Linked DNA regions of Homo sapiens: region 2 is linked to region 1. The links come from fine-mapping of genetic effects on plasma protein levels. A gene starts in region 1. The other region holds a variant in brackets. All regions are shown on one strand. Distances are between the middles of the regions.

The links. PIP is the posterior inclusion probability: the model's chance that the variant is causal. Sun 2018 read protein levels with aptamers (SomaScan).
Region 2: its variant is fine-mapped to the plasma level of the PLAUR protein (Sun 2018, PIP 0.95). The variant lies in the coding sequence of PLAUR. If it changes the protein, the assay may bind it differently, which can mimic a change of level.

The regions. Positions count from the first base shown.
Region 1 is chr19:43,668,383-43,680,451 of GRCh38, forward strand. It overlaps PLAUR (plasminogen activator, urokinase receptor), which reads right to left and starts at 1,787. Exons shown (of 7, transcript NM_002659.4): 1 at 1,684-1,787. The coding sequence starts at 1,738. It overlaps LOC124904724 (a long non-coding RNA gene), which reads left to right and starts at 382. Exons shown (of 3, transcript XR_007067264.1): 1 at 382-801; 2 at 1,644-2,098. RefSeq lists silencers at 286-515, 556-635 and enhancers at 1,556-1,855, 7,052-7,151, 10,935-11,434.
Region 2 is chr19:43,646,094-43,658,367 of GRCh38, forward strand. PLAUR (plasminogen activator, urokinase receptor) reads right to left here. Exons shown (of 7, transcript NM_002659.4): 4 at 10,386-10,547; 5 at 9,346-9,480; 6 at 6,132-6,278; 7 at 2,486-3,050. The coding sequence ends at 2,797. Among named protein-coding and RNA genes, the nearest start is that of CADM4, 12 kb to the left of the region's middle. The variant T/C (reference allele first, on the strand shown) is at 6,227.

The sequences.
Region 1 (12,069 bases):
TGACCTTATCTTCCCGCCCCCTAGCTCCTCCCCGATGCCATAACCCCGCCCCTAGCTCCTCCTCGAGGCTTTAGTCCCTCCCTCTAGCTCCTCCTTGAGATTCTAACTTCGCCCTTTAGCTCTCCCCGCCCCTAGTTTTCCCCTGAGGTCATAACTCCGCCCCAGTCCCTTCTTGAGGTTTCAGCCCCACCCTGTAGCTCCTCCCCGAGGTCGTAACCCCCGCCCCTTGGCCCCTTGAGGTCCTAGCCCAGCCCCGTAGCTCCTCCCCAAGCTTATAACCCCGCCCCTAGCCCCTCCTTGAGGTTCCAGCCCCGCCCTCTAGCTCCTCCCCGAGGTTATAATCCTGCCCCTCAAGAGTCTAGTCCCACCTTCTAGCTCCTCCCGAGGTTATAACTCCGCCCTCTGGTTACGCCTCGAGGTTATAACCCCGCCCTCTGGCTCCGCCTCGAGGTTCTAGCCCCGCTCCTAGCTCTTCCTCGGTCTGTAACCTCTCCCGTAGCTCTTCCTTGAGGTTCCAGCCCCGCCCTCTGGCTCCTCCCCGACACTCTCTCCCCGCCCCAGGCTCCGCCCCGAGATTGCAGCCCAGTCCCTAGGCCCGGTCCCCGACCTCCGGGCCTTCCCGGACATCCCTTTCCAGCTGCGCGTTCGGAGTATCCCGGAGCTGTTACTCATTCCCGGCCTCCCGCGGTCTCGAGCGCTTTCCGGGTTATTCATCGCGGCCCCAACACCCTGTGGCCACCCGCCCTGACTCAGTTCCTTCTCGAATTCCTCGACCCAGAGCCCCCCACATTTTCCGGGGAAGTAAGTGAGAGTCGCCTCAGTGAGAGGGAAAGGTCCTGAGGGACAGTCCCGGGTCTCCAGCACTGGCTCTGCGCCGCTCAGTCAGCCTCCCTTTGGGCCTTTTGTAAAAGGGGGTCCTGTCCCCCCGTTTCTCAGAGGGGGAGACCCAGCAGCGTGGAGAGCGCTGGGGGGCGCTGCAGGGTCAGATCCTGCGTATTCAAGCACTGGCTGTGTGATTTTAGGCCAGTTATCTAACCTCTCTGTGCCCTAGTTTCCTCTGCGAAACGAAATTAATAAAGTCCCATCGCCTAGTTTGAAATTGCAAGGAAGAGGCTTCGAAGAACTCCATTTAAAAAAAGAACACTTGGGCCGGGCGCGGTGGCTCACGCCTGTAATCCCAGCAGTTTGGGAGGCCGAGGCAGGTGGATCATCTGAGGTCAGGAGATTGAGACCATCCTGGCTAACAGAGTGAAACCCGGTCTCCACTAAAAATACAGAAATTAGCCGGGCGCGATGGCAGGCGCCTGTAATCCCAGCTACCCAGGAGGCTGAGGCAGGAGAATCGCTTGAACCCGGGCGGCAGAGGTTGCAGTGAGCCGAGATCGCGCCACTGCACTCCAGCCTGGGCGACAGAGTGAGACTCTGTCAAAAAAAAAAAAAAAAAAAAAAAAGCACTCACTAAATTATGTAAAGCTAAATGCCTTTGCTCCACTAATATTTCCTTAGCTACTGAGTGCCAGGTACTGCGCCGCGTGGCGTTGCACAAAGCACGAGAATTACTATTATTTGATTAGGGAGGATGCTGAGGACTGAACCGCATTCCTCCAACTCATCCTCTGACAACCCCCAACCCCCTCAATTAGACCCTGTTCCAGGCGCAGGCGTTCGGGACCCAGCCCCTACCTGGGACGCAGGTGTGGAGCAGCAGCAGCAGCGGCAGCAGCGGCGGGTGACCCATGTCGCGAGGGCAGCTCCTGTGCGCGGGGTCCCTGCACGTCTTCTCTCCTTCTGGCCTCAGGAAGGAGGCAGTTTTGTGGCCCCAGGGACTCCTCCCAGACGTTTTGCGAAAGAGCGAGTCAGCCCCAGATGCGTGGGCGCCTCCCCCTCCTCCCGTACGAACCTCCTCCGCCACAAACTTCCCTTCCCGGGGCGCGGCCGGCTGGTGGTGAAGGGGCTGGCTCGGCCCTGACTCATGGAGTTGTGATCACAGCTCTGTCCCCAGATTGCCTGGGTGCAAATCCCAGTTCTCTCTCTTCCTAACGTGGGACCCGGGGCAATCGCTCTCCACTGCTGTAAAATGAGGATAAAAACTTTGACGGTAAATATGAATGTGGCTGATTATTTGGCTAACAGGATTTTTGTTAGTTTTGTCAGGAGGGATACTGGTATTTTGGAAAATGTCCTTATCTAGAGATGCATCCTGAAATATGCATCTCTTAAACACTTAAAACACTTAACCCTTGCTTTGCTTCCCGCTGTGCCCCCAGCTCCTGGACCAGTGCCCAGCACGAAGTAGGTCCTTGGTAAATGTTAAAGGAATGTGTTGAGCCCTCCATTTTGGCCAGCAGCTATTCCAGGCATTGCACCTACATTAAAACACTTAATGGTGAAACCCCGTCTCTACTAAAAATACAAAAATTAGCCGGGCGTAGTGGCGTGTGTGTGTTACTTAGGAGGCTGAGGCAGGAGAATCGCTTGAACCCGGGAGGCGGAGGTTGGGTTGCAGTGAGCCGAGATCGTGCCACTGCACTCCAGCCTGGCAACAGAACAAGACTCCTTCTCACAGAAAAAAAAAAAAAAAAAAAAAAAGACACTTCAGCCAAAAAAGTAGATATCACTGTTACGACAATGGCTGTATGCTTAGGTGGGATTCTGGTTTTTGTTTGTTTGTTTGTTTTTGCAGATGCTTACTAGAGTATTTAGTGGTGAATGTTATTGATGTCTGCATTTTTTGTTGTTGTTGTTTTGGGGATTTTTGTTTTGTTTTTTCTTTTTCTTTTGTTTTCATTTTGATGTCTGTATTTATTTTATAATATTTTAGAAGAGGTCAGATGAGGTGGCTCATGCCTGTAACACCAATGCTTTGGGAAGCCAAGGCAGGAGGATCACTTGGGGCCAGGAGTTCAAGATCAGCTTGGGAAACATAAAGAGCCCTCATCTTTCCAAAAGAAATTAAAAATAAAATAAAATTAGCTGGGTGCAGTGGCCCGTACTTGTAGTCCTAGGTAGTTGGGAGGCTAAGGTGGGAGGACCGCTTGAACCTGGGAACTGGAAGCTGCAGTGAGCTATGATTGCACCACTGCACTCCAACCTGGGCAACAGAGCGAGACCCTGTCTCAAAAAAATAATAAATAAATAAATACTTGAGTAGAAAATAAAGGCAAAATAGCCAAATGGTTGTATCAATTATATAAAGGTAATCAGTATATAAGGGCATATTATGCCATTCTGTCTCCTTTTCTGTGGGTTTGAAAAGGCTTATAATAAGTTTTTTCTTTCTTTTTATTATTTATTTATTTATTTATTGAGACGAAGTCTCACTCTGTCACCCAGGCTAGAGTGCAGTGGTGCAATCTCGGCCACTGCAATCTCCGCCTCCTGGGTTCATGCAATTCTCCTGCCTCAGCCTCCTGAGTAACTGGGATTACAGGGGCACGCCAGCACACCCGGCTAATTTTTGTATTTTTAGTAGAGATGGGGTTTCACCATGTTGGTCAGGGTGGTCTCGAACTCCTGACCTCAGGTGATCCACCTGCCTTGTCCTTCCAAAGTGCTGGGATTACAGGCATGAGCCACTGCACCTGGCCAAGTTTTTTTTTTTTTTAAGTAAAATAAAATACTAAAGATAAAATTGTCTCCCCGTCTTAGGATGCATCTAACTAAACAGAGCAATTTAATGTAGGTGCAATGCCTGGAATAGCTGCTGGCCGAAATGGAGGGCTCAACACATTCCTTTAACATCTACCAAGGACCTACTTTGTGCTGGGCACTGGTCCAGGAGCTAGGGGCACAGCAGGACGCAAAGCAAAGTTCCCACCTTTTGTTGTGTTGACAGTGGGGAGCAGATATGTGTTATCTAATCTTTCACTGTCTGAGAGGGATAAGCAAACTGGAGAAAACAAAGCAGGCTGAAGGAAGTATCTGGGTGCAAATGAGGTGTGAGCTGTTTTAGGTGGGTGATCCAGGAGGGGTTCCCTGAGCAAGTGGCATTCAAGCAGAGGCTGAATGCAGTGAGGGAAGAAGTAGGGCAGATGGGCAGGGAACCTTTCCAAGGAGCAGGAACAACCAGTGCAAAGGCCTTGAGGTGGAAGCCTGATGAGATTCTAGGAACAGAAGAGATGTCAGTGTGGCTGGAACAGATTAGGAGAGGAAGAGAGTCGTAGGGGATGAGTAAGTGGTAGCTACTTCTACTGCTGTAATAATGATTATACTATGTGATTTGTTGTCGTTGTTGTTGTTGTTTTTGAGACAGAGTCTCACTTTGTCTCCCAGGCTGGATGCAATGGCGTGGTCTCGGCTCACTGCAACTTCCACCTCCCAGGTTCAAGGGATTCTCATGCATGCCTGGCTATTTTTTTTTTTTTTTTGAGTCGGAGTTTCTTTCTTGTTACCCAGGCTGGAGTGCAATGGCACGGTCTCGGCTCACTGCAACTTCTGCCTCCCAGGTTCAAGAGGTTCTCCTGCCTCAGCCTCCTGAGTAGCTGAGATTACAGGCATTCTCCACCATGCCTGGCGAATTTTTTGCATTTTTAGTAGAGATGGGGTTTCACCATGCTGGCCAGACTGGTCTTGAACTCCTGACTTCAGGTGATCCACCCGCCTCAGCCTCCCAAAATGCTGGGATTACAGGCTTGAACCACTGCGCCCAGCCCTAATTTTTGTATTCTTAGTAGAGATGGGGTTTCGCCATGTCGGCTAGGCTGGTCTCGAACTCCTGACTTCAGATGATCAACCTGCCTCAGCCTCCCAAAGTGCTGGGATTACAGGGGTGAGCCACCGCACCCGGCCCTAATTTTTGTATTGTTAGTAGAGATGGGGTTTCACCATGTCTGCCAGGCTGGTCTCTAACTCCTGACTACAGGTGATCCACCCACCTTGGCCTCCCAAATTGCTGAAATTACAGACATGAGCTACCGCTTCCAGCCTGTACTATGTGATTCTTACTAACTCATTGAAGCTGTAAGCTAATGATTTTAAGATAAGGTTAGAAAACAAAAAACAAAAAAACTCCCAATGGTGAGCACAGTGGTTCATGCCTATAATCTCAGCACTTTGGGAGGCGAAGGCTGGAGGATTGCTTGAGCTCAGGGGTTCGAGACCACCCTGGGCAACATAGTAAGACCTTGTATCTATAAAAAAATAAAATTACAGCCTGGACAACATAGCGAGACCTTGTCTCTATGAAAAATAGAAAAATTAGCCAGGTGTCGTGGTGCACACTTGTGGTCTCAGCTACTCTCTGGTTGAGGTGGGAGGATCACTTGAGCCCCAGGGGTTTGAGGCTGCAGTGAGCCAAAATCGAGCTACTGAACTCGAGCCTGGGCAACAAAAGTGAGACTGAAAAAAAAAAAAAAAAGAACTCCCAGAGAATTTCCTAAGAGGTAGTATAGCCCAATGGTTAAGAGTGTGGGAGCTGGTCTCAGATTGTGAAAATCTAAATTGCATCTACATATTGGCTGTGTCACCTCTAGCAGGTTACTTAATCTATCTCTGTGCCCAAGCCCCTTATCTGGAAAGTAGAGATAGCAAGTATCACCCTCCCAGGGCTGGTGTACTGCGGAGGTAAAAGAATCCACCTAAAATGACTGAGCATGGTGGCTCATGTCTATAATACCAGTGCTTTGGGAGACCAAGGCAGGTGGATCACTTGAGGTCAGGAGTTCAAGACCAGCCTGGCCACCATGGCAAAACCCTGTCTCTACTAAAAAATACAAAAAAATTAGCTAGGTGTGGTGGCATGCACCTGTAGTCCCAGCTACGCAGGAGGCTGAGGCACGAGAATTGCTTGAACCTGGGAGGCAGAGATTGCAGTGAGCCGAGATCGCACCACTCCACTCCAGCCTGTGCGACAGAGCTAGACTCCATCTAAAACAAACAAACAAACAAACAAAAAGAAGAATGCTCCTAAGATGCTTGCCACAGTGCCTGGTACATAGTATGTGCTCAATAAAAGCGATAGCTGCCAGTATTATCATTGTTGCAACTCTGGACATTCACCTCTTCCTGGAGTAGGAAGGGAGATGGAGGCCTGTCATTGAGTCTGACGTCAACAGTTATCACGCGTCAGCTGCTGAAGTGGGCACTTCCCTGGCTGGGTCACCCTGGGCCAATGACATTCTTCTTTCTGAGCCTCAGTTTTCTCAGCTGGAGAAGGGGATCCCTCTTGGGCTGGTGTGAAAACTAAACTAGATCGGAATGTACATGAGGTGGGGAAATAGACAGTTGGGGTGTTGGTCCAAGCAGGCTTGAGACCCAGCTCAGCCACTTGCTTCTGGGTGACCCTGGGCAGATGGCTTCACTCCATCAATCCCCGGCTTTGCCACCTATGAAATGGGTCTGGGGTGGGTAGGGGGCATCTCTCAGTGAAGAGAAAACTCAGGTTTGAGGGTCATGCGGAGCTGTGTGCTGTGCTGCTACCACTTCCTGGTGGGATGACCTCACTTCTCTAAGCCACAATTTCCCAATTTCCCTTTTTTTTTTTTTTTTTTTTTTTTTGAGACAGAGGCATGATCATAGCTCACTGCTGCCTTGAACTCCTGGGCTCAAGCGAAACTCCCACTTCAGCCTCCTGAGTAGTTGGGACCTAGGGGTGTGCACCACCATGCCTGGCTATTTTCTCATATTTCGTGTTTTTTGTAGAGATGGAGCCTTGGTCTGTTCCCCAGGCTGGTCTTGAACTGCTGGGTTCGAGTGATCCTCCCGCCTTGGCCTCCCAAAGTGGTGGGATTACAGGTGTGAGCCACTATGCTCAGCCAATTTCCTCTTTAACGAATGAGAGGTATTTCAGAGCCCACTCATCCCTGCCCAAGGCTGCCCTCGCCTCCTGAAATTTCTGTCTCTCCCTGTGTCTTTGTCTTTTTCTATCTCTCTGTTTTGTTGTTTTCTTTGTCTCTGTCCCTCTTTCTCTCTCTCAATGCCTATCTCTCTCTCTCTCCAACTCTATCACTTTCTCTCTCTGTACCTCGATCTCTGTATCTGTTTGTCTCTCTCTTCATGTCTTTTTATCTCTGCTTCTCCCTTTTCTCTGTCTCTCCCCATGGCTCTCTTTCTCTTTCTGTGTCATTGTTTCTGTTTCTCTTTCTGATTCTTTCTCTCTGTCTCTCCCTCAAGTGACACACACACACACCTGTAAGGTTCTGCTGACGTGTAAAGGGAAGGGAAATGCAGGGATCAGGACCTGGACACTCTCCAGAAACACGGCAGGGATGTCGGCTCCTTCCTCCTCGTGACTCACCTGGGCCTCACCCAGCTCTTGCCTGCCTGCGGGATCATGGGTGAGGCCCATGGGTTTCGGGGGCTTCCCCAGCCTGTGGAGAGGAGAATTTCAGGCAGAGACAGAGAGGGTGATAGAGGAGGAGGCAAAGAGAGGGAGAGACAGAGAGAGAGAGAGAGAGCTGGGGATAGAGATGGAGGTGGGGAAACGAGGGAGAGGGAGAGAGAAGAGACCCACAGACAGACTGGCTCAGGGGAAATCTGAGATGGGGGTGTGGGGGGAGTGAGAGAGACAGAAAACAGCAACCGAAGAACAAGGACAGGGAGAAAGAAAAATGGGCAAGCAGGGAGAGAGAGAAGATAAGAGACTGACAGAGGAGTTAGAGAAAACAACACACAGTTGCCTTCAGAGAACACAAAATAGACACAGAGATACAGGGACACTGTGTGTGTGCGTGTGTGCATGTGTGCGCGTGTGTGCATGCGTGTGCATGTGTGTGAGTGTACGTGCATGCGTGTGTGCGCACACATGTGTTTGTGTGCATGTGTGTGCATGTGTGTGTGCGCGCACGTGTTTGTGTGCCTGTGTGTGTGTGTGTGCATATGTGCATGTGTGAGTGTGTGTATGCATGCATGTGTGTGAGTGTGCCTGCATGCATGCGTGTGTGTGTGTGTGTGCACCTGTTTGGGGCTCCCTCATCCTCTTGCCACCTGCCATGATGAAGTGACTGCCCTCTGGCCTGGCCGCTGGGAAGGTCCTTCTCTGGTTGGGGAGGTGGGGGGGATGGGGGGTGGCTGAGCTGATGGTAGGGAAAGGGCCATCGCTCATAACCTCCCCTTTCTGGGACGCCTAACAGGCCACACTGATGTGGCTTTCAGATCCTGGCCTGGACACCTCTTAGATGTAGAGGACCTCTCCACTCAGGGCCTCCCTGGGGAGTGGAAGAGCTGGTAAACCCTTGAGTCCAATAACCCTCTTCCCCCGTTTTCCAGGCAGAGAAACTGAGGTCCAAAGGGAAGACTTTTTATTTTTTTGAGATAACGTCTGGCTTTATCGTCCATGCTGGAGTGCAGTGGTGAGATCTCAGCTCACTGCAACCTCCACCTCCTGGGCTCAAGCCATCCTCCCACCTCAGCTGCCCAAGCAGGTGGGATGACAGGCGTGCACTACCACGCCTGGCTAATTTTTGTATTTTTTGTAGAGACAACATTTCACCATGTTCTCCAGGCTGGTCTTGAACTCCTGAGCTCAAGCGATCTGCCCACCTCCACCTCCCAAAGTCCTGGGATTACAGGCATGAGCCACGGCGCCCGGCCTAAAACAGGAGACTTTAAATGAGTTTCTCCCCGTCTCAAGTTTATTGTGTTTGTGTTACAGTGGGTACTGTTTTGAGAGTATTATCTATATTATTGGTGAATCTGTAAATATCCTATTTCGTACACACACACGGAAACTGAGGATTAGAGAGGTGTGGTGGGCTGAGAGATGGTCCCCGAAAATATCCAGGTCCTAAGCCCTGGAGCCTATGGGTGTTACCTTAAAGGAAAAAAGGGTCTTTGCAGATATGATTAAGTTAAGGAACTTAATCAGGAACATTTTCCTAATTATCCAGATGGGCCCTAAGTGTAATCAGAAGTGCCCCTGGAGGAAGGAGGGACAGGGACATTTGACTGTAGACAGAAGAAAAGTAAGTCATGGGAGAGAAGCAGAGGAAAACAGGGTGGGAGACAGAAGGTATTTGCTGCGGGCTTTGATGATGGAGAAATGGCCAAGAACCAAGAAACGTAAGAAATGCAGCTCCTGCTGGAAAACGACAAGGAAATCACTCACCCCGGACATCTCTTGACCAGGGCACTGCTCTGCTGACACCTTGATTTTGATTACATGAGACACATTTTGTACTTCTGACCTCCAGTCTGTGAGAGAATAAATTTCTGTTGTTTTAAGCCACTAGATCTAAGCTAATTTGTTACAGCAAAATAGGACACCAATACAAGAGGTTAACTCACTTGCCTAAATTGAGCTGATATTTTTTATTTTTTGAGACACGGTCTTGCTCTGTTGCCTAGGCTGGAGTGCAACGGCAGGATCATAGCTGATTGCGGCCTCCAGTTCCTGGCCTCAAGTGATCCTCCTGCCTCAGCCTCCTGAGTAACTGGAACTACAGGCCCATGTGACCAAGCCTGGCTGATTTTAGAGAGCTTTTTTGTTTGTTTGTTTGTTTTGAGGTGGATTCTGGCTCTGTTGCCCAGGCTGGAGTACAGTGGTGCAATCTCAGCTCACTGCAACCTCCACATCCCAGGTTCAAGCAATTCTCCTGCCTCAGCCTCCTGAGTAGCTGGGATTACAGATGCCTGTCATCATGCTCGGCTAATTTTTGTATTTTAGTAGAGACGGGGTTTCACTATGTTGGCCAGGCTGGGCTTGAACTCCTGTCCTCAGTTGATCCACTCACCTTGGCCTCCCGAAGTGCTGGGATTACAGGCATGAGCCATCGTGTCTGGCTGCCTGGCTGATTGAATTTTTTTTTTTAATAGAGACGGTGGGGGAGGGTGGGGGGTCTCACTATGTTGCCCAGGCTGGTCTTGAACTCGTGGCCTCCATCATTCCTCCAGTGTTGGCCTCCCAAAGTGTTGGAATTAATAGGCTTGAACTACCACATCTGGCTTCTAAACTGACTTGTTAGGCCAGGTGTGGTGCCTCATGCTTGTAATCCCAGAACTTTGGGAGGCCGAGGCGGAAGGATCACTTGAGGTCAGGATTTCAAGATCAGCCTGGCCGACATGGTGAAACCCCGTCTCTACTTTAAAAAAATATAAAAATTAGCCTGGTATGGTGGCAGGTGCCTGTAATCCCAGCTACTCAGGAGGCTGAGGCATGAGAATCACTTGAACCCGGGAGGTGGAGGTTGCAGTGAGCCGAGAACGCGCCACTGCACTCCAGCCTAAACAACAGGGCGAGACTCTGTCTCAAAAATAAATAAATAAATAAATAAAATAAGATAAACTGACTTGCTAAGTGTAGTGTCAGGATTTGAACCCCTGCATTCTGGCTCTGTTTCCTACACTTACACCCACCATGCTGAGGGGTGCTGCCCTGGAGTAGGGCAAGCAAAGACTAGGAGCTATTAATAGAAGTTTCATCCTGTTCTCTCCCAGCTCCCGCCTCTTTCCATCTCATCCTTCAGCAGCCTTCTTTGCTATGCCTCTCTCTGGCTTCATGGTATTAGGGGTGACTTGGAAAGAAGCAGGGACCAGAGGAATAATATTCACTGAGTTTGTGTAAAGAAAAAAGCTTTCCTTGCCTCTAGCACCTTGCAGCTCTTTTATTCCACCGCCTAGATGCAACAGCAGAAATCATCTTTGCAATTCAAGGCCTAATATTCTGAATATATAAGGAGCTCCTGTTATGGGTTGAATTGCTTCCCCTCCACACCAGAAAAACATAGGTTGAAGTCCTAACCCCCAGTACTCAGAATGTGACCTTATTTGGAAATAGGGCTGTTGCAGATATAATTAGTTAAGTTGCAGTCATACTGAAGTAGGTTGGGCCCCAAATCACTATGACTGGCATCCTTATAAGAACGTGGCCCTAGGCCGGGCGCGGTGGCTCACGCCTATAATCCCAGCACTTTGGGAGGCTGAGGTGGGTGCATCACCTGAGGTCAGGAGTTTGAGACCAGCCTGGCCAATATGATGAAACCCCATCTCTACTAAAAATACAAAAATTAGCCAGGCGTGGTGGCGCGTGCCTGTAGACCCAGCTACTTGGGAGGCTGAGGCAGGAGAATCGCTAGAACCCATCAGGCAGAGGCTGCAGTGAGCCGAGACTGTGCCACTGCACTCCGGCCTGGGTGACAGAGTGAGACTCCATCTCAAAAAAAAGAAGAAGGTGGCCCTGTGACGACAGAGAGACACAGGAATAATGCCATGTAAAGACAAAGGAAGAGAGTGGAGCTAGGCAGCTGCAAGCCAAGGACCGCCAAAGATTGCCAGAAAGCCACTGCTGCTGGGAAGAGCCAGGTAGGAGTCCTCTATGGGTTTATGGCCCTGATGACACCTTGATCTTGGACTTCTGGACTCTGGACTGTAAGACAATACATTTGTCGTTCTGACCCACCCAGTCTGTAGTACTTTGTTACAGCAGCCATAGGAGGCTAACAGAGCTTCTATGAATCAATTGGGTGGAGCACAGTGGCTCACGCCTGTAATCCCAGCACTTTGGGAGGCCAAGATGGGTGGATTGCCTGAGCTCAGGAGTTCGAGACCAGCCTGGGCAACACCATGAAACCCCGTCTCCACTAAAATACAAAAAATTAGCTGGGCATGGTGGAGTGCACCTGTAGTCCCAGCTACTTGGGAGGCTGAAGCAAGAGAATTGCTTGAACCTGGGAGGCGGAGGTTGCAGTGAGCTGAGATTGCACCACTGCACTCCAGCCTGGGGGACAGGGTGAGACTCGTCTCAAAAATAATAATAATAATAATAATAATAATAATAATTAATAGAGGACAGGAAAAGAAGCACAAATGACCCCTATAAAAATGACACTAACCAGTCACAGTGGCTTACGCCTGTAATCCCAGCACTTTGGGAGGCTGAGGCACGAGGATCGCTTGAGCCCAGGAGTTCCAGACCAGCCTAGGCAACAAAGGGAGACCTTGTCTCTATAAAATAAAAAAAGGTTAGCCAGGCGTGGTAGGACATGCCCATCTTCCCAGCTACTCAGGAGGTTAAGGAAGGAGGATCTCTTGAGCCCAAGAGTTCAAGACTGCAATGCGCTATGATTGTGCCACTGCACTCCAGCATGGGTGACAGAGTGAGACTATGCTCTAAAAAAAATTAGTCAATAAGAGAGA
Region 2 (12,274 bases), 22 kb before region 1:
ATCCAGCCAATTTTTTTTTATTTTTAGTGGAGATGAGGTCTCACTGTGTTGCCCAGGCTGATCTTGAACTCCTGAGCTCAAGAGATCTTCCTTTCTCACCCTCCCAAAGTGCTAGGACTACAGGCATGAGCCACTGTGCCTGTCCTTCCATGATGTTTTGATATAGGCACACAATGTGTTAGTTTATAAAGTTTGTAATAATTTATCACAGGCAGCCCTAGGAAACTAATATAGCCAAGTTTCCTGTTTCTTCTCTATATCACATCTGCTGGGGCTACATGTCCAAGGTGGCTTCTTCACCCACTTGTCTGGTGCCTGGGCTGAGATGGCTGAAACATCTGGGGCTCTATCTCCACATGGCATTTATACATGAGTAGCTTGGGCTTCCTCACAGCATGGTGGTCTCAGGGCAGTAGTACTTTTACATGGCAACCAGCTTCCCCAGAGTGAGCGTTCTAAGATTCAGAAAGTGAAAAATGAAAGTTTCTTAAAACTTGGTTCCAGAACATAGCACAGCAAAACTTCCACCACATTCTACTGGTCAAAGCAGTCACAGAGTCACTCATATTCAAGAGGCAGAAGTACAGACCTCACTTCTTTAAGCCACTACAGTGACAGGTGGTGATATGTCATTAGAGAAAGCCCTAAACAAGAACCTTGTCCCTCACCTGCCCCCAAATACCATGGAAGATGTCTTTTTTTTTTTTTTTTTTTTTTTGGGGATAGTCTCACTGTGTCATGCAGTGGTGTGATCTTGGCTCACTACAACCTCCTCCTCCTGGGTTCAAGCGATTCTCCTGCCTCAGCCTTCCGAGTAGCTGGAGTTACAGGCACCCACCACCTTACCCGGTTAATTTTTGTAATTTTAGTAGAGACGGGGTTTTGCCAAATTGGCCAGGCTGGTCTCAAACTCCTGCCTCAAGTGATCTGCCCACCTCGGCCTCCCAAAGTGCTGGGATTACAGGCGTGAACCACCACAGCCAGCCGAAGATATCTTATTTTTTCTTCATTAGCCACAAGATTTGATGGGGAATGTAATTTTTGTCTCCATGGGTTGCCTTAGCAAATGATGAGAAGAACATGAATTTTTCAATATTGTGCTCCTAGAGTGCCATTGAAATGGTAGTTCTGTCTCTTTTTCTGACAGTCCTGAGGCATCCCGGGAAATAGAGCCCAGCCTTTATCCCCGGTCCCCAGCACATCAGGGGAAGTGCACTCCTGTCCTTATTCCTCACTGCAGTGCATGCAGGGAGTTCTGGCCATCAGGTTATCTTCTATCCGTCTCCTTTCCCAAAGCATGCTGGGAAATGTGGGGATGTCTCCTTAGAACAACAAAATAGTTGCAACCTTTGAAGTTTAGGAGAAGACTAGAAGGTTAGTGTTCAGTGTGTGATCTGGAAGCTTGCATTTGTAAGAATTAAAGAAAGAGGAGGCCAGGCACGGTGGCTCATGCCTGTAATCCTAGCACTTTGGGAGGCCAAGGTGGGCAGATCACCTGAGGTTGGGAGTTTGAGACCAGCCTGAACAACATGGAGAAACCCTGTCTCTACTAAAAATACAAAATTAGCCGGGTGTGGTGGTGCATGCCTGTAATCCCAGCTACTTGGGAGGCTGAGGCAGGAGAATCCCTTGAACTAGGAGGTGGAGGTTGTGGTGAGCTGAGATTGTGTCATTGCACTCCAGCCTGGGCAACAAGAGTGAAACTCCATCTCAAAAAAAGAAAAGAAAAGAAAAGAAAAAGGAAAAGGAAAGAAACATGAAATGTGGCTTGACGGTGAAGGACAGGTTTATTTTAGAGAAAACCAACCTGAGGGGGGCTTTTGGCTGAGTTAGGTTAGAGAGCCCTTTTTTTTTTTTTTTTTTACAGACTAAGGATATTTAAGAGTTTTGGAAGGGGGTGCTTATCTAGGTTCGGAATGTTTTCATGTGAGGAAAAGTTTATTGTGGGGTTGGAAAGTCTCTGGTCGGAAGGGAGGCTATCTGGGGGTTGGCATGTTTCTGGTCAGAGAGGGGTTTATCTTAGGGTTGGAATGTTTCTGGTTATGCTGATGGTAGCCATTAGGCTGATGTTTTGGGGCTGGATTTAGCTGATTTTTTTTTGAGACAGAGTCTTGCTCTGTCACCCAGGCTGGAGTGCAGTGGTGCAATCTCGGCTCACTGCAAGCTCCACCTCCCGGATTGACGCCATTCTCCTGCCTCAGCCTCCCGAATAGCTGGGACTACAGGCACCCGCCACCACGTCCGGATTTAGCCGATTTTTAATCAAGAGGAACTAAGAATGGTGGTGTTTGTTCAAGATGGCAGTGCTCCTGCTCTGTCAGCATTTGGAGTCCAGAAATAGATGTGGAGGCAGCCCCCAGGAGGACTTCCAACCTAGGCAGGGGCCTCAAACATGACCCCTGATTCCAGGAGCCTGTGAAAAGGTGTCCCCCACCATTTATCCTCCCAAAGATAGACACTACAAAGAAGGGCATACCTGGCCTTGTCCACTGGTACAAAATCTTTATGTAAGTATAAAATAAATAATATGAATATTAATTAATAACAACAACACAACAGCGGCAACAATATTAATAATAACAAGAGCTCTCCCATTGGCCCACGGCCTTCCTCCAGCTTTTCTCTTCTGCTTCACACAACTTTGTGAGATAGCTGTTTTCATAGCTGGGAAAACTGAGGCCCAGAGAGGTCGGCACACTGGCCTGAGGTCACACAGCAAGTCTGTAGGGCTGGGAGCCGAGGGAAGGGCAAAGGGGTCCCCCGGATCCAGCCAGGGCAGAGAGGGGGATTTCAGGTTTAGGTCCAGAGGAGAGTGCCTCCCCACAGTCTGGCAGTCATTAGCAGGGTGATGGTGAGGCTGAGATGGGCAGGGCCAGGCTGAGGAGCAGCCCCACTGCGGTACTGGACATCCAGGTCTGGGTGGTTACAGCCACTTTTAGTACAGCAGGAGACATCAATGTGGTTCATGCTGAAGGCGTCACCCAGGTGGGCATGTTGGCACATTGAGGCGGTTGCACAGCCTCTTACCATATAGCTTTGGTTTTTCGGTTCTGAGGAAAGAGAAGACGGAGTGAGACTTCCAGCTCCTGGGCCCAGGACTGGAATTCTCCAGTAGGTGACCTGCCACCTTGCAGTGGGTGCCACCTTCACTACCACCTAGAGAAAGCAGCAGTTCTCAGGGCCAGGTGTGGTGGCTCATGCCTGTAATCTCAACACCTTGGGAAGCCAAGGAGAGAGGATAGCTTGAGCCCAGGAGTTCCAGACCAGCCTGGACAACATAGCAAAACTCTGTTTCTACAAACATAAAAAAGAAAAAAACAGCTGTAGTCCCAGCTACTTGGGAGGCTGAGATGAGAGGATCACTTGAGCTCAGGAGATGGAGGCTGTGGTGAGTTATGATCACGCCACTGCACTCCAGCCTGGGTAACAGAGTGAGACCCTGTTTCAAAAAACAAATAAAAAGAAAGAAAGGAAGGAAGGGAGGGAGGGAGGGAGGGAAGAAGGAAGGGAGGAAGGGAAGAAGGGAAAGAAAAGAAAGAAAGAGAGAGAGAGGGAGGAAGGAAGGAAGGAGAAGGGAAAGAAGGAAGGAAGGGAGGAAGGAAGGAAGAAAGAAAGAAAGAAAGGGAAAGAGAGACAGAGAAAGAAAAGGAAAGAAAAAAAAAGAAAGAAAGGAAGCGAGCAGCGGTTCTTAAAGTGTGGCTCAGGGACCCCAGAGACCCTTTCAGGAGATCTGTGATTTCACATGGCTTTTTCACTCTCATAAGTGTACAATGGGCTTTTCCAAAAACTCCAGGACATGTGATATTGCAAGAGACTGAAAGCAGAAGCTTCCATGAGGACCCAGCTGTCTTCTATTAAGCTGGACATTAAAGAGATGTGCAACACAGCAAAATAATGCCAGTTTTCTCATTACGCTTTTTTTTTGTTTTTTTTTTTGAGATGGAGTCTCACTCTGTCACCCAGGCTGGAGTGCAGTGGCACGATCTCGGCTCACTGCAACCTCTGCCTCCCGGGTTCAAGCAATTCTTCTGCCTCAGCCTCCCAAGTAGCTGGGACTACAGGCGCGACCACCATGCCCAGCTAATTTTTGTATTTCTAGTAGAGACGGGGTTTCACCATATTGGCCAGGCTGGTCTCGAACTCCTGACCTTGTGATCTGCCCGCCTTGGCCTCCCAAAGTGCTGGTATTACAGGCGTGAGCCACCGCGCCTGGCTGGTTTTTTTTTTGTTGTTTCTTTGTTTGTTTTTTTAAGACAGGGTCTCGCTCTGTTGCCCAGGCCGCAGTGCAGTGGTGCAATCTCCGTTCACTGCAACCTCCACCTCCCAGGCTCAAGTGACCCTCCCACCTCAGCCTCCCAAGCAGCTGGGACTACAGGCATGCACCACCATGCCCAGCTAACTTTTGTATTTTCTGTAGAGACAGGATCTTGCTATGTTGCCCAGGCTGGTCTCAAATCCCTAGGCTTAAGTGACCCGCCCACCTTGGCCTCCCAAAGTATTGGGATTATAGGCATGAGCCACCATGCCTGGCTATCATTACATTTTTTCTTTGGAAACTATACTTATTTTTCATTAAAATGTTATTTATCTTAATGTGTAATGAGTTTTTATTGTTATAAGATGAATTCATAAATAAATCTTTAAAGATTTCTCAGTTTTGGCTGGGCACGGTGGCTCACATCTGTAATCCCAGCACTTTGGGAGGCCGAGGCAGGCAGATCATGAGGTCAGGAGATCGAGACCATCCTGGCCAACATGGTGAAACCCCGTCTCTACTAAAATTACAAAAATAAGCTGGGCATGGTGGCTCATGCCTGTAATCCCAGCTATGCAGGAAGCTGAGGCAGGAGGATTGCTTGAACCCAGGAGGGGGAGGTTGCAGTGAGCTGAGACCATGCCACTGCACTCTAGCCTGGCGACAGAGCAAGACTCCATTTCAAAAAAAAAAAAAAAAGATTTCTCAGTTTTAATTTTAATTTAATTTTATTTTATTTTATTTTTTGGGACGGAGTTTCACTCTTGTTGCCCAGGCTGGAGTGCAATGGCACAATCTTGGCTCACCGCAACCTCTGCCTCCCAGGTTCAAGTGATTCTCCTGCCTCAGCCTCCCGAGTAGCTGGGATTATAGGCATGTGCCACCATGCCCGACTAATTTGTATTTTTAGTAGAGATGGGGTTTCACCATGTTGGTCAGGCTGGTCTTGAACTCCCGACCTCAGGTGATCTACCCACCTCGGCCTCCCAAAGTGCTAGGATTACAGGCGTGAGCCACCACTCCTGGTTCTCAGTTTTAATTTTAATGTGGCATTTATCTATAGAAATCACTGATATAAACAATAAAGAGTTTTTTTTTTTTTTTGAGACAAAGTCTCCCTCTGTCATCCAGGCTGGAGTGCAGTGGGGTGATCCCCACTCACTGCAACCTCCTCCTCCTGGGTTCAAGTGATTCTCGTGCCTCAGCCCCCTGAGTAGCTGGGGTTATAGGTGCACGCCACCACACCCAGCTAATTTTTGTAATTTTTTGTAGAGACAGGGTTTCACCATGGTGGCCAGGCTTGCTCTCATACTCCTGACCTCAAGTGGTTCTCCTCCTCACCCTCCCAAGGTGTTGCAATTACAGGCGTGAGCCACCACACCTGGCCAAAAATAATTTTTAAAAGCATGAAGAAGTTGAGACCAAAAAGTTTGAGAACCACTGGAATACAGAGACCTTTCCAGGACACCACAGGATGAAAGCCCAAGATGTCTTCAGCAAATCCCCACAACCCACGAGAAATCCACCAAAGAATTCCATTTTTCTTTTTGTAGAGATGGGGGTCTTGCTATGTTGCCCAGGCTGGTCTCAAACTCCTGGCCTCAAGAGATCCTCCGGCCTCAGCCTCCCAAAGTGCTGAGAGTACAAGCTTCAGCCACCGCACCCAGCCGGAATTCCACTTTTCCATGGCAAAAATGTCCACATCCTGATGGACAAGTCCTAATTCCTTACAATAATATTCACCCACCTGAAGGAAATCCCACCTTTTCCACAGGGAGACCCACCACAGTTAACTCCAGCTTAACTGGAAGTCAATCTCTTGCGGAACTCTCCACCCCCAATAAGTGTTCCCTCCCAGCCTCGGAGAGGGCCTCACCGTGAGTGCCGGTGGCTACCAGACATTGATTCATGGGGCCTCGGCAGTCAATGAGGAAAGTCTCTTCAGAGGAGCATCCATGGGTGCTGTTCCCC[T/C]TGCAGCTGTAACACTGGCGGCCATTCTGCGGCAGATTTTCAAGCTCCAGGACTTAGGAGAAGACCAGAGACACAGAGACCAAGAAAATTAGTGCTTGGATCTCCACTTCCTTGAATGACCTCCCCAGGACTTCCACTCCGAGCCAGAGATGTCATGGAGCCACCTTGTGGTCAGGCGTCTGAATGGCATTTGGAGGGGGATGGTTTTCGAGGGCTTGAGAGAAACCCCAACTTTCAACTCCCCATGAGTCCCATTTCTGGCCAGGCACCGTGCTGGGTGCTGGGTAAAACTATGTAAGATGAAACTGTCCTTGCTCTCACAAAAGTTACAACTTATTTATTTATTTTTGATACAGGGTCTCAGTTTGTTGCCCAGGCTGGAGTGCAGTGGCGCAATTGTAGCTCACTGCAGCCTCGACCACCCCGGCTCAAGAGATTCTTCCACATCAGCCTCCTGAGTAGCTGGGACTACAGGCGTGCACCACCATGCCTAGCCAATTTTTCTGTTTTTTGTAGAGATGGGGTTTTGACACATTACTCAGGCTGGTCTCAAACTCCTGGGATCAAGCAATCTGCCTGCCTCAGCCTCCCAATGTTCTCGGAGTACAGGTGTGAGCCACTGTACCTGGCCAGAACTTACAAGTTATTACTATTATTATTACTAAAAAATTTTTTTTGAGACGGAGTCTTGCTATGTTGCCTAGGCTTGTCTCAAACTCCTGGCCTCAGGCGACCCTCCCGCCTCCGCCTCCAAAAGTGCTGGGATTACAGGTGTGAGCCACTGTGCCCAGCCAGAATTTACAATTTAGAGCTACACTACCCAATCTGGTAGCCACTGGCCACATGTGGTTGTTTACATTTAAATAAATTAATATTAAATCGAATCTTAAAATTCAGTTCACATTTCAAGTGCTCACTGACCACATACAGTGGTGGCTGTAATATTGGACAGGACAGATAGGGAACATTTCTATCTGTTGACAGTGCTGGGTAATAGAGACAGGGATCTAGATTACACTGGAGGGGAGGGACAGTGAAAGCATCCCTGAAGATGATACATTAAAGCTGAGGCCTAATGGATGAGAAGTTGCCAGCAGGGTGAACTCTTGGGGAAGATGTGTTCTAAGGGAGGATATTCATCTGCAAGGGCCATGAGACCAGATGGGCTTTGGTGATTATAGAAACCAAATGAACGTCAGCACAGCGGCTCATGCCTGTAATCCCAGCACTTTGGGAGGCCGAGGCAGGAGAATCGCTTGAACCTGGGAGGCGGAGGTTGCAGTGAGCCAAGATCACGCCACTGCCCTCCAGCCTGGCTGACAGAGCGAGACTCCATCTAAAAAAAGAAAGAAAGGAAGAAAGAAAGAAACTAAATGAAGGCCAGGTGCAGCGGCTCATGCCTGTAATCCCAGCACTTTGGGAGGTCAAGGCAGAAGGATTGCTTGAGCCTGGGAGTTTGATACCAGCCCCGGCAACATAGTGAGACCCCATCTCTACAAAAGTTTTAAAAATTTAGCTGGGTGCGGCCGGGCGTGGTGGCTCACGCCTGTAATCCCAGCACTTTGGGAGGCTGAGTCAGGCGGATCATGAGGTCAGGAGATCGAGATCATCCTGGCTAACACAGTGAAACCCTGTCTCTACTAAAAATACAAAAATTAGCCAGGCATGGTGGTGGGTGCCTGTAGTCCCAGCCACTCGGGAGGCTGAGGCAGGGGAATGGCGTGAACCCGGGAGGCGGAGCTTGCAGTGAGCCAAGATCGCGCCACTGCACTCCAGCCTGGGCAACAGCGCAAGACTCCATCTCAGAAAAAAAAAAAAAATGTAGCTGGGTGCAATGATGCGCATCTGTAGTCCCAGCTACTTGGGAAGCTGAGGTGGGAGGATCACTGGAGCCCAGGAGTTTGAGGTGGCAGTGAGCCGTGATTGTGCCACTGCACCCCAGCCTGGGTGGCAGAGCAAGACCCTATGTCTAAAGAAAACACAAAACCCCAAAAACGAATCTAAACAAAGACTGTGAGGCAGACAGGTGCCAGATTACATAGGCCAACAGAATAAGGTCTTTGGATCTTATTCTAAGAGGAAGGGGAAGTCATTGAAGTGCCTGAGAAAGGAGGGTGACATGATCTGATTTACATTAAAAAATAAAAAATTGGTGGTGCATGGTGGCTCATGCCTGTAATCCTAACACTTTGGGAGGCCAAGCCCAGGAGTTCAAGACCAGCCTGGGCAACAAAGCAAGACCCCATCTCTACCAAAAATACAAAATTAGCTGGGTACGGTGGCATGCACCTGTAGTCGCAGCTACTCCAGTAGCTTAGGTGGGAAGAATTCCTGAGCCCAGGAGTTTGAGGCTGCAGTGAGCCATGATCATGCCAGTGCACTCCAGCCTGGGTGACAGAGCGAGACCCTGTCCCCCCCATACCCCCCAAAAAATCACTCGCTGCTGGGTTGAGCCTTGGCTGTAGGGTGGCAGGAGTGGAAGCAGGGAGACCAGAGAGGAGGTCATTGCAACAACCTGGGCAAGAAGTCAGCGTGGCTCAGCCCAGGTGGTGGCAGTGGAGCAGGGGAGGAGTGGGAAAATTTGAGAGAGACAAAAGAGACAGGAAGCACAGGTCTTGGCGAGGGCTGATAGTATCATTGAATCCTTACGAAGTTCTTCTTTGAAGAAAGGCCTGGCTGGGTGCAGTGGCTCATGCCTGTTACCCCAGCACTTTGTGAGGCTGAGGCAGACAGATCACTTGAGGTCAGGAGTTCGAGACCAGCCTGGCCAACATGGTGAAACCCCCATCTCTACTAAAAATAGAAAAATTAGCCAGGGGTGATGGTGGGCACCTGTAATCCCAGCTACTCAGGAGGCTGAAGCAGGAGAATCGCTTGAACTCGTGAGGCGAAGTTTACAGTGAGCGGAGATCACGCCATTGCACTCCAGCCTGGGCAACAGAGTGAGACTCCGTCTCAAAAAAAAAAAAAAAAAAAAAAAGGCCTGATACTCCCATTTTTCAGAAAAGCAAACAGAGGCCCAGAGAGGACTTGATTGCCAGAGAGTGACTGCGCAGCTGTCTGCCTGAGTGCATGCCCCTGCCCGACCCCAGGCCTTGCCTGTGTCTCCCGTTCCTTACTTGGGCCCTCGTTGCATTTGGTGGTGTTGCAGCATTTCAGGAAGTGGAAGGTGTCGTTGTTGTGGAAACCATTGGAGCCCGGGCAGCCGGGAAGGTAGCCACAGCCACGGAGGTGGCGGTCATCCTTTGGACGCCCTATGGGGGCCAGGGGACAGAGGTCAGATGTCAGATTGTGAATGAGGGACTAAGATGGGATTTGCCCGAAATAGCAGGCATTCAACCATTCTCTACTTCACCCTTCATCATAAGACCCTCATTTTATCTAGAACAGTCATAGATCTTGTCGAAAACTACATATTCCAGCCTCTCCAGGTAGTCATGTGATGAAGTTCGGACTAATGTGATATAAATAGAAGTGCTTTATGGGACTTCCAGAAAGGAGAACCCTTACAAAAGGAGGAGTGCCCCCTTTTTTGTCCCTTCTTTCCTTCTTCCTCCTTCCTGGAACTTAGATGTGAGACCCGGAGCTCTGGCAGCCATTTTAGACTATGAGGCATTTTGAGAATGGAAGTAATGTGTAAGAAACAAGAGGGTGGCCGGGCGTGGTGGCTCACGCTTGTAATCCCAGCACTTTGGGAGGTTGAGGCGGGTGGATCACAAGGTCAGGAGTTTGAGACCAGCCTGACCAACATGGTGAAACCCCATCTCTACTAAAAATACAAAAATTAGCAAGGCGTGGTGATGCACACCTGTAATCCCAGCTATTCAGGAGGCTGAGGCAGGAGAATCACTTGAACCTGGGAGGCGGAGGTTGCAGCCAGCCAAGATCATGCCATTGCACTCCAGCCTGGGTGACAGAGAGCAAGACTCTGTCTCAAAAAATAAATAAATAAATAAATAAAAAGAAATGAGAAGGCATCTGGGTTCCTGGTGACTCTGGACCTGTCCTTGTGGCCCTGGACTTCCTATCACTGGACCTCTTGTGTATGAGAGAACTTAGTCCCTTGCTGACATCCCTGTTACTTTGGGGTTGTTTGTTAAGTGCAGTCTTAGGGAGGAGCAGAGCAGGGAGGAGGAGTTGCCAGCAGGTTGGGGCTCACCTTCTTCACCTTCCTGGATCCAGTGGGTCACCACATCCAGGCACTGTTCTTCAGGGCTGCGGCACTGCAGGCTCTGGTGCCGGCCCCTCTCACAGCTCATGTCTGATGAGCCACAGGAAATGCATTCGAGGTAACGGCTTCGGGAATAGGTGACAGCCCGGCCTGTTTGGAAGAGGGGGAGGGGAGTGAGACTCCATGGGGACAGTCCTGGAGCCCCAGCTCTGCAAGGACTCACTCAAAATCAATTCCTCCTTATCCCACCCTGCAGCCAGTCATTGAGCCCTGCCTATTCTGCCTGCTGAATCTTTCTAGAATCCACCCCCTCCTTTCCAGCCCCATGGACCAGTCCAGCTCAGACCTCCTTCAACTCCAGCTACCTCCCTAGCCTCTGGGTTTCCATTCTTGTCACCCCCTACTCACCCCAGTGCAGCATCTCCACATGGCCCTAGAAACATTTCTTTCCTTTTTTTTTTTTTTTTTCCCGAGACAGAGTCTCACTCCGTCACCCAGGCTGGAACGCAGTGGCACCATCTTGGCTCACTGCAACCTCCACTCCCCGGGTTCAAGTGATTCTCCTGCCTCAGCCTCCCGAATAGCTGGGACTACAGGCGTGCACCATCACGCTGGGCTAATTTTTGTATTTTTAGTAGAGACAGGGTTTCACCATGTTGGCCAGGCTGGTCTCGAACTCCTAACCTCAAGTGATCTACATGCCTTGGCCTCCCAAAGTGCTGGGATTACAGGCATGAGCCACTGCACTCGGGCCCTTAGAAGGATATTTCTAATACTCATATCTGACCCTGTCTCTCCTCTGCTCAAGACTCTTCCATAGCTCCCTACTGCCCTGAAAATAAATTCCAAGATCCTCAGCATGGGATTCAAAGCCTATCAAATACTGGGGCCTGAGCACCTCTCCTGCCTCGTCTCCCTCCACTACACCCTGAGACTCTGCTCCACACTGACTTCCCACAGTCTGCGACGACACATGTTCCCTGGCATCCAGGCCTTTGCATATGCCGTTGTTTCTGTCTAGAACACCTTTCCTTTGCTCTCTGCCTTCCCTAACTCCTACTCATTCTTCAGGTGTCAGCTCTAATTTCACCTCCTCTAGGAAGCCCTTCCTGATCCACCAGGCTCCCACACACCCCTGTACTCCCCCATCCCACTCTGGGTGGTCACTGTCTGGTGACAGGTATGTCTCCTCTACTGGACTGTGAGCCCCCAGGAGGGCAGGGCCAGGGGCTGTCTTGATCACTACTGTGTCCCAACACCACCTGGCACATGGCCAGGGACAGATAAGATATTCAATGCATATTTGTTAAATGAATGAATGAATGAGCAATTACTTAAAACCCTTCTATTGTTCCCTGTGGTAGCCTGTCTCCAAAATGGCCCCCAATAATCTCTGCTCCCTGGTATTCATGCCCTTAAAGAATAGGGCTGGCTGGGTGCAGCAGCTCATGCCTGTAATCCCAGCATTTTGGGAGGCCGAGGTGGGAGGATTGCTTGAGTCTGGGAGTTTGAGACTAGTCTGGGCAACATAGCAAGACTCTGTCTTTAAATTAAAAAAAAAAAAGAAGAAGAAAAGAATAAGGATGCCCTATGTAGTCAACTGGATATTATGGAAATGATGGTGTATGCCTTCTGTGGCTAGATCATAGAACACATGCCTGGCTCTCTCACTTGGATCACTTTTTCTGGGGCAAGCAGCAGCCATGTTGTGAGGACACTCAAGTAGCACCATGGGAAAGTTCACGTGGCAGAACTGAGGCCTGTGCCAAAGCCATGGGAGGGGAGCATTCATGTGAGTGAAGCTACCTTAGGAGCCTTCAGATGACTGCAGCCCCAGCTGACATCTCGACTGCAGGCTCATGAAGGATCCTGAGCCA